Regions from separate parts of the Homo sapiens genome. Here region 2 is linked to region 1. The links come from fine-mapping of genetic effects on gene expression. A gene starts in region 1. The other region holds a variant in brackets. All regions are shown on one strand. Distances are from middle to middle.

The links. PIP is the estimated chance that this variant, and not a neighbour inherited with it, causes the effect.
Region 2: its variant is fine-mapped to the expression of LINC01956 in hippocampus (GTEx, PIP above 0.99). The same link has a PIP of 0.9 or more in spinal cord.

The regions. Positions count from the first base shown.
Region 1 is chr2:118,834,297-118,838,684 of GRCh38, forward strand. LINC01956 (long intergenic non-protein coding RNA 1956) reads right to left here and starts at 1,850. Exons shown (of 3, transcript NR_199712.1): 1 at 192-1,850; 2 at 51-107.
Region 2 is chr2:118,769,651-118,774,038 of GRCh38, forward strand. No RefSeq gene overlaps it. Among named protein-coding and RNA genes, the nearest start is that of LINC01956, 64 kb to the right of the region's middle. The variant T/C (reference allele first, on the strand shown) is at 2,603.

The DNA.
Region 1 (4,388 bases):
AATAATCCCTCCATTCTCCCCTCCACCAACACCCAGGGTCCCTCACTTACATCGCAGTCCCCAAGTCAACACTCGACTTGTCACTTTGCACCACAATGCGGTCAGCCCTGTGAGGACATGAAGAATGGATATGAAACTCGAGGCCAGATAAGCGTGGAACTAGGTTCAGCCGTCCTCCCTGGGGTACCTACCTCCCTACTCCCGACAGAGCTGTGAGCCTCCGCCTGCTGAGAGGAGGGCACTTGGGCGGACCTGAAGTTAAGAGGCCCGGGGTGAAGGCCAGAGCTCAATCTGCAGGGATAGAAGGCGCGGGAAATCCAGCAAAGGATGGAAGAACAGTCCCTGCCAGGCCGCGGCCTCCTCGCCCCCGCCTGCCCGGCCTCACCCTTCTGGAAGTTCCTCCAGGCCTGGGTGGGGGCCGCCAGGGAAGGCGCAGAGGGAGGGCAAGTTGGCGCCGCTAGTTTTAGAGAAATCCTAAGTAAACAGTGAACCCGAGCAGGAAACCTCAGCTTTGCCTGGGTAAGAGAACTGGCCACACAGCTCCAAGAAAGGAGAGGAGGAGAACAAATCTCTGCGCCCTGAGGATGGTGGCTTTATTGCGGAAAGAGGTGGTGGGGCCGGAGCTGCTCTGCAACTTCCTCTCGCCCCCTCAAAAAAAAAAAAAGTATCCCGCAGCGAGGATTTCAGAAGGGGCTCACCTGGTGCAGGAAAAGTTCAGTTGGCAGCCCTTCGCGAGCAGGTCCTCCCCAGCCCGCACCGAGAAGGCAGGCGCCCGGGCCCTCTGACTCCAGTGGCTCAGAGCCGGCTCAGGACTGGCAGGGCGAGGAGCCGGCGGGCCGAGCCAGCGAGGGTTTGGGCTGCCCGCGGTGTGTGTGCAAGAGCGCGCGCCTCGTGTAACCATTCAGGACCAGTTGAAGCAACACAAATAAAGTCAGGTCTCTTCAGCCTTGCTGTCCACCCCTCCCCCTCTTCCTGGTTTGACCCTGGCCTGGCCGCTCTGAGGCCCAGTTTGCGCAGCCGACATTGCGTGGCTACTCTCATTACCAGGGGAAGGGCGCTCCCCTTTTCCCTGGTAATACTCCGGGAGCCCCTACTCGGAAGCCCAAGAGTCAAAGGGATACAGGGGTGACTGGAGAGCAGCGGGGGACAGCGTGGCCTCACCCAAGGTCAGCGCTGGTCCCCACGTGTCGGCCGGGGGAGGGGAGGGGAGCGGACAGTCGGAGCGTTCGGATGTCCAGTTGAGCCGCGGCGCGGGGCAGCCGGGGGCGCAAAGTTGGAGGCAGGGCTGGGCGACGAGGAGAGAGGGAGGGCCGGGAGCCGAAGGGACGCCCGGGTGCACCCCGCTGCAGAGGCCGAGTCCGAGCGGCCGGAGAAGGCTGGTCGCAGAAGGGCGGCCTCCGGTGCAAAAAACGGAAACCTTGGAGCAGAGGATGAGGAGGAATACGGAGGCGGGGAGCCCACAGAAAAAGATGTTGAGGAAAGAAGAGGAGACCCCGGCCTAAACAAATCGAAACTGTGCAATGAACGTGGCCCGGGAGAACCGGGGGTGAGGGGCGATGGCTGGAGCTGCGGCCCAAGCACAGCTTTCAGACGCTTGCCCGGACCCTGGCGCGGGGAGGCGGCCGGGACTGCCTTTCTGCGCGCGTCCCTGGAGAGCGGGTGGGCAGGACCTGCGCCCCGCGGTGGGCAAGAAGATTTGGGGTTTCGCAGTTCCTGGGGTCGGGGGCGGGGGTGAAGTGCCCTCAGAGACCTCGGCGGAGCCCCAGTTGCGCTCCCATCTCCAGCCCCCACTGGAGAGAGGGGGTCCAGGGCCGTACCCTCCTGCGGCCTGGGCTGCGCTGACCGGAAGTGCCTGTAAGAAGCGCCCTCCGCGGACCGTGCCGGGCGCGGGCAGCTCCAGCCGGGTTGGAGCAAGGCCAAGACGCCCGGATGGGGCGGGCCGTTTCGGCGGACCCAGTCTGGACGCAGGTGCGGGAGGAAAGTGTGAGGGGGGAAACTGCTGATTGTGCGGGGATAGGGGCATCTTAATCTGGGAAAAGATCGGAATCTCTTGGGACGCTAATCTGAGACCCGGGTCGGAGGTGTAGAGTAGGGGTGTGTGAGCAGGAACTCGGACCTGAGTTACAGAGTAAGAGGGAAGAGGGCTGGAGAGGTGCTGAGGCTACTCCTAGTTAAGACTGAAGGAGAGGAGAGGAGGGATAACAGCCCTTCACGCAAATCAGTGCTCCCCCTGCTCCCCCAGGTGCCAAAGTCCAGGACCAATGTGGAGACTTGACACTGCGCTATGCGACTGCGAATCATTCTTCTATTTATAAGTAACTACAGTATAGACTTCAACGTGATTTGGTGAGACCTTAGCAGGATGACCCTGGACCTCACTTTTCTTATCTGTAAGGTGGGGATTATAATAGGCAACACACAGAAATGTATGTTGTTGAAGGAAATAAATTGTGTTAAATGGCTAGCAATGTGCACGGAAGACCCTCAGTGATTAATGATCATGTTAATTTTGAATTTCTGGGAGTGACATCTTCTGAATTGCCTGCACTCTGCTAAATGGACAAGTCCTGTACCTGGAGGTGAAGGGGCGGGGGAAGGGCAAGGAGAGCCCTGCTGTGGTCGTTACTGGGACTCGCTTTTGTTTTCTTCAGGATTCAGTATTGAAATTGGGAGTGTGGAGGCGGCTTCTCCCCAGCTCTCTCCGTCCAGTTTTCCACTGTGTTCTATTTATCAGATGGCAGAGCCGTGGGTCTCGCTGCAGGAAATGGTTGCTGTCAGGGCCCGATTGCTGCTGTCAGGGCCCAAGCCCACTCTTGCAGTAGTCGTGGTTGAATCAGAAATTCTCCTGGGTCCCTTCTGTCTTTGGACTCTCATCTCTCTCACAGGAGGCTCCCGCCCCTCTGCGCTGGTCCTGGAGGCCTGCAGACCAGGTCTTCAGGAGGAGGGGAGGATGCGAGCACCCCAGATGGAGCTTTCTCCGTGCGCTTGTGTGGTGGCAGGGGGCAGAGAGGAATCTAAGTTGTGCCCGGCTTTATACCCCACTCCTCATCAGAGTTGAGGAGGGGGAGGCGAGTACTCACTAGTCTCCTCTACAATCCCCTGCCCCCTCCTGGCACTCCCACCCACCTGCCTGCCAAAGGCAGAGTCACAGGCTGTTGATAAGAATACTCTCTTCAGGATGTGTGTGCATGCACACACACAATACATTTCTGCTTTTCTATTGGGTCACACATACCTAGAGTCTTCCATTACTATAGCCTGAAATCTTCCCAAATGTCCTCAAAACACCCCACCCCCATACCTGTGGGGAGAATTCCAGAGTGGAGGGGCCCACTCCATCTCCAGAGTGGCACCCAGGTGGAGAAGGCTGTATTCGAAGCAAATTCAAGGAGCAAATTTTAATGGCCCATGACTTACCAAGCCTCTGAGAAATCTGTTTGGGATGTTTACCTCCTCTTGCCCTGGGTCTGCTCCGGTCCCAAGAGCTACAGCTGGCAGAGCACTGAGTGTACTTGCTGGTGGGAGAGGGTTGTAGCATTGGGTCTGTGTCTGAGCACAGGCACCTGGACTGGACCAGCTGCCTCCAGGGGAGAGAGAAGGGGCTGCCTCTCCTTTTGGTGGCTTCCACAGAAAGGAGAGGGCACACAGGTCTGTCCTGAGCCCTGGAAACAATGTCTTTTCCCTCCCCTGGCTAGGGGTGAAGCCCACCAGCTGGGGCATGCAGGTGCATCTTGGACACCAGTATGTGTATTCCTGGCTCATGTATAGTTGTGTGCCAGAACCTTCTACACAGGCAATGTCCATGTGCTTGCTGTGAACACACTGTATATTGGTCCACTGACATTTGTATACATGCCTATGTTTTGCATGTGTGCATATGTATCCACATGGGTGTGTGCATGCTTATGCATTTGTATGTGTGGAAGTGTGTACATGTGTGCATTGTGACTGCATGCATGTTGACATTACCCACTTGACGGCACAGTGAGGAGAGGCCTGGACTGATAGGAAATCTGAGGACTTTGCCTCTCATTTGCCTTGTGCTTTCTCTTGGGGCACTTTCTCTCTCAGGATTTTGTAATTCAAGAATCTCTGAGGACCCTTCCAACACTGACATTGCATTAAAAGACTGGCCTAAAGCATTTGGGGAGGCGTGGAGGCTGGCAGAGTCCCTAGCCCTTCCCCTTTCCACAGGTTGCCAAAGAAGAGAAACCCTCTCCTCAGAGTTCAAAGTGAGAGAGGACAATGGAGGTTTCTGGTGGGAGTGAGGAGGGATGAAGATACTCTGCCACCTCCCACAGACGGGGATGAGCATAGTCTTCCATTTGAACCCACTGTGACATCCAGACTAAAAGGGTCCAGGCTCTGAGGTGAAGCTGGGGAGGACA
Region 2 (4,388 bases), 65 kb before region 1:
CAGGGTCTAGCACAGTGCCTGAGAACCTGATGTATAGTAGATACCTAAAAAAAAACAGGTTGAATCAAAGAATGACTGGCAAGTTGATAAGAAGAAGTAGGAATGGAAGGAAGGTTGGGGAGAAGACAAGAGGGAGAGAGGAAAAAAGAAAGGGAGAGAGGGAGGAAAGGAAGGAGAGGGAAGGAGGGAAGAGGGGGAAAGAGGGAGGAAGGGAGGGAAAGAGGGAGGAAGAAAAGGGAGGAAGGGGGGAAGTTTCCTGGAGAGACAACAATAATAAACTCCAATACTATGTATATTCTTCACCATTTCTAAATCCAAAAATCCCTGAATCCTATATACATGACCCCCCCTTGTCCCCATGTGTTTTAAATGAATCAAGGGTGCAATGTTAACAACAATGAAGAAGAAATGAGAGGAACAGCTGGTTCTTCCATGATTGCTGGTTCATTCATTCATTCTACAAATATTCCATGTGCCAGGCCATGCGGTCACCGCTAGGGAGAAGCATGTGACGTAGCAGATGCGCAGGTGGTGGATTTCAGCTGACTCGACTTCACCATGCGACCTTGGGCAAGTTGCCCACCTGCTCTGAGTCTGTTTCCTTCTCTGTAAGGTATGGAGGTTGAATGATCCCTAATAACCATTCCAAAGCTCATCTTCTGTTGCCTCCAAACTGTAATAATAATAATAAAAAACATTATTAACTGAGCATTTAGTCTGTACAAGGTCCTATGGTGTTTCTCTATATTATCTCAGTAGAGAAACAAGGCTTGATGTGCCCTGTTTGGTGGAAGGTATATTTCTCTATATTATCTCAGTTGATTCTCAACTGGGTTGATTCTCAACTGAGATAATATAGATACTATCAATAAATGTAATTGGAGGCAGGGAGTAGAAATGTAGGAATAATATAGTATCTATATTATCCATACTGTTATCAACTGAGGTAATAGATTCAGAATCAAATGTAATCAAATGAGGTATCGTTTGATATCTCAGTTGGGATAGGTAGAATTACCAACAGCTATTTTGTAAACAAGGAAAACTGAAGCAAAAGAGATTAGCTGACTTGTTAATGGTCAACAAGCTAGAAAATGATGACATTGAAATTTAAACAAACATTCCTCTGACCTCACTTTGCTACAAAACCCCAGGTTGTATCATGCCCTCTAACAATTCTGGACGTGGCCAGGACGTGGTGCCAAGTCTCAGGGGCAAGACAGAAGAGGCAGAAGCACATTTAGTTCTTGTGTTTAAAGCAGGTGATTGTCTCCAAGCTTCTCTGGACTTCAGGTGAACACCTTCCTTTGGTCCTCAGAACACCTCTTCCCCACATGTATGGCTGCTTAAGAAGACTTTGAGGTCGCAGGTAGAAAAGCATGGCATCCAGAAACACAGCTTCTCCTGACCAAGGCTGTCAACAGCCATGAACATCATCCATGAGCTGGTTTCCTCCAGGAGACAACTTCCTGTCCCAAACCTTCACTGGTTGCTTTCTGCCTCAGTCTACGTCATAACTGGGTGTTCTCAAGCCAGACATGGCTGCAAATAAGTTACGTTTGGCTTGATAGCTTTTAAAAATTGGAATATATCACATAAAATCCCAGATATGGGACTTTGCTTCAGAAATTAGAAGATCTGGTTACAGATGACCTACAATCCAAGAACCAGCTGGAGCTGAGTAGGAACTGACCTTTCAAATACACATGGCTGGCCACAGGCCCCACTGCTCCTTATTGCCGCGTATTGACCCCTATAGGCATTTGAATTTGGAAACCCCAGACTGCATAACCAAATCCAAGGCCTGGCACTCAAAGCCCTTTGCTACCTGGACCCCAATCTCTTGTTCCAGTCAACCTAAAACTGCTGCTCTCCAGCCTTCTGGAGTGGACCCACCCGAAGGGCTCCTTTTCATTATACCTCATCTAAGGGTCCTTCTTGTCTTCCTACACTTCTACTCCCTGCCTCCAGTTGCATTGGATTCTGCATCTTTTGGCTTCCTTTTCCTTCCCTGCCCATCTGGGATCCACACAAAAGTGTGGAAACCCTGACTCTTTTAGATCTATGCATGGAAGAACTACTGAAGAAGAACCCATTGCCTGATTCCTTGCTGCTACTCAAAGTGTGGTCCAAGAACCAGCTACCTTAACAATGCCTGGCAGCTGTCAGAAAGGCAAGATTCCAGACCTCCACCCCACACTATTAAAACCAAAGCTGAACTTTAATAAGATCTTCCAGGTGAACTGGATCACATTAAAGTTTTGGCAACCCTCACCTACTGAAAGAATTGCAAGTCAAAGCCAGGTTCAGCCTCAGGCTCAGGTACTCACCCATAAGCCCACTCCCTAGCTCTTCTCCAGGCCACTCAGCTTCTCCCACAGCACCAAGGTAGAACACAAAAGGCTCAGTAACAAATCCAGCAGGTGGCCCCTTTCTAATGAGGCAGAATTAAGCAGATCAGCGTCCCAGGACTGAAGGCATACAGCCACCTTTCACATGATGAGTGCCAGTCCCTGTGTGCCACATCAGATCAGCCTTCTGACCCCAAGCCATCCAAATATCCCTGCTCTACTGCAGAGGGTAGGAACTGAGCTAGACAAAA[T/C]AGGAAATGTTCTGAAACCAAGTGTGGTCATGAGCTCTGACCAACATGCAGGAACACTTGTAGATGCTGGAGATGGTCCAACACAAAGGATAGTGTGCATTACAGAGATGAAATGGAAAGGCAAATGGGAATATAGGACCGCTGTTGCAATCATGAGATCATATGATTCCAATACTGCTTATCCCAGTGGAGGTACAGGTTAGCTCCATTGTTCAATTTAGTAACTATTGATCAGAGAAAATGCTGTGTGCCAGGCACTGTTTCTAGGTGTGAGACAACAGACAAAAATCCATACCACCGAAGCTTACAAACTAGTGCAGGGAGACAGACAGGAAACAAGAGAAAGAAGGATAGAAAGACAGGCAGTGTCCGTGTGCGCACATGTGCCTGTGTGTTTTGAGGTGGAGGAAGCATTCTAATCATATGAGCAGCTCAACGTGGTGATAAGAGCCTTGAAGTGGGAATGAGGAGAAACTGTTCTTCTTTTGCACGTGAACTCATTTGACACTCATGATAATCTATGAGCTACAGTGGCAGGTGTCTAGGTGGCCCTGCGACCTGCTTGCCAGTGTTCACACCCCTGTGCGTTCCCCTCCCCTTCAGTGCAGGCTGCACCTGGTGACTCGGTCTAACAAATAGAAAATGGCAGAAGTGATGGGATGTCACATCTGAAATTAGACAGTAAAAAACTGGCTCCTAAATCTCTCTCTCTCTTTCTCTCTCTCTCTTTCCCTCTCTCTCTCTCTCTCTCTCTCTCGCGCGCGCGCGCGTGCGCGCGCGCCTCACTCTGGGAGAGGCTGTCAGTTGTGAGCAGCGCTATAGGCCTACGTGGTGAGCACCTGATGTCTCTGGCCAATAGCCAGCAAGGACCTGAGGCCACCAATGGCCTCATGAGTGAGCTTGAAAGCAGGTCCTTCCCCAGTCCAGCCCAGGGATGACCGCAATTCCAGCACTTTAATTGCATCTTCCTGACAGATCACCCATAAGCCACACCCATATCCTTGACCCATGGACACTGTGACTTTAGAAATGTTTGTTATTCTCAACCACTAAGTTTGGGGTAATTTGTTATACAACAGGCAATACAGGTCAAGCACAGTGGCTCATGCCTCTTATCCCAGCACTTTGGGAGGCCAAGGTGGGAAGATCGCTTGAGCCCAGGAGTTTGAGACCAGCCTGGCTACATGGTGAGACCCTGTTTCTACAAGAAATAAAAGTAAATTATCTAGGTGTGGAGGCATATGCCAGTAGTCCCAGCTACTTAGGTGGCTGAGGCGGCAGGATTGCTTGGGCCCAGGAGGTCGAGGCTGCAGTGAGCTATGATCACGCTGCTGCACTCCAGCCTGGGCAACAGAGACAGACCCTGTCTCAAAAAAAAAAAAAAAAGGTGGGGTGAGCAATACATTATATAGGCAGGTACTTTTCTTACCTCCATTTTATAGAGGATAAAACAAGGCACAGAGAAGTAAATTAACTTGTCCAGGACATACAGCAAGTAATGCCAGGGCTGAGATTTGAACCCTAACAGTCGGGCATCTAGAGCCCGTACAACTGAGCAAGGCAGGATGCTGACATATTCAAGTATGGGTTTGTGCATCTGCTCCTCTAATCGGACTGTGCTCTCCTTTTCAGATCTGTGCACCTGGCACTTGGTCATTGTCCAGCACTTAGGAAGTGCTCAGCAAATGCTAGCTGAGTGAAGCCAGGAGGGTGGAAGTGAGCAGAGCTGTCCTCTTGACTCTAGCCCACCTTGCACCAGAGAAGGGAAAACAGAAGCGGTGAGGAG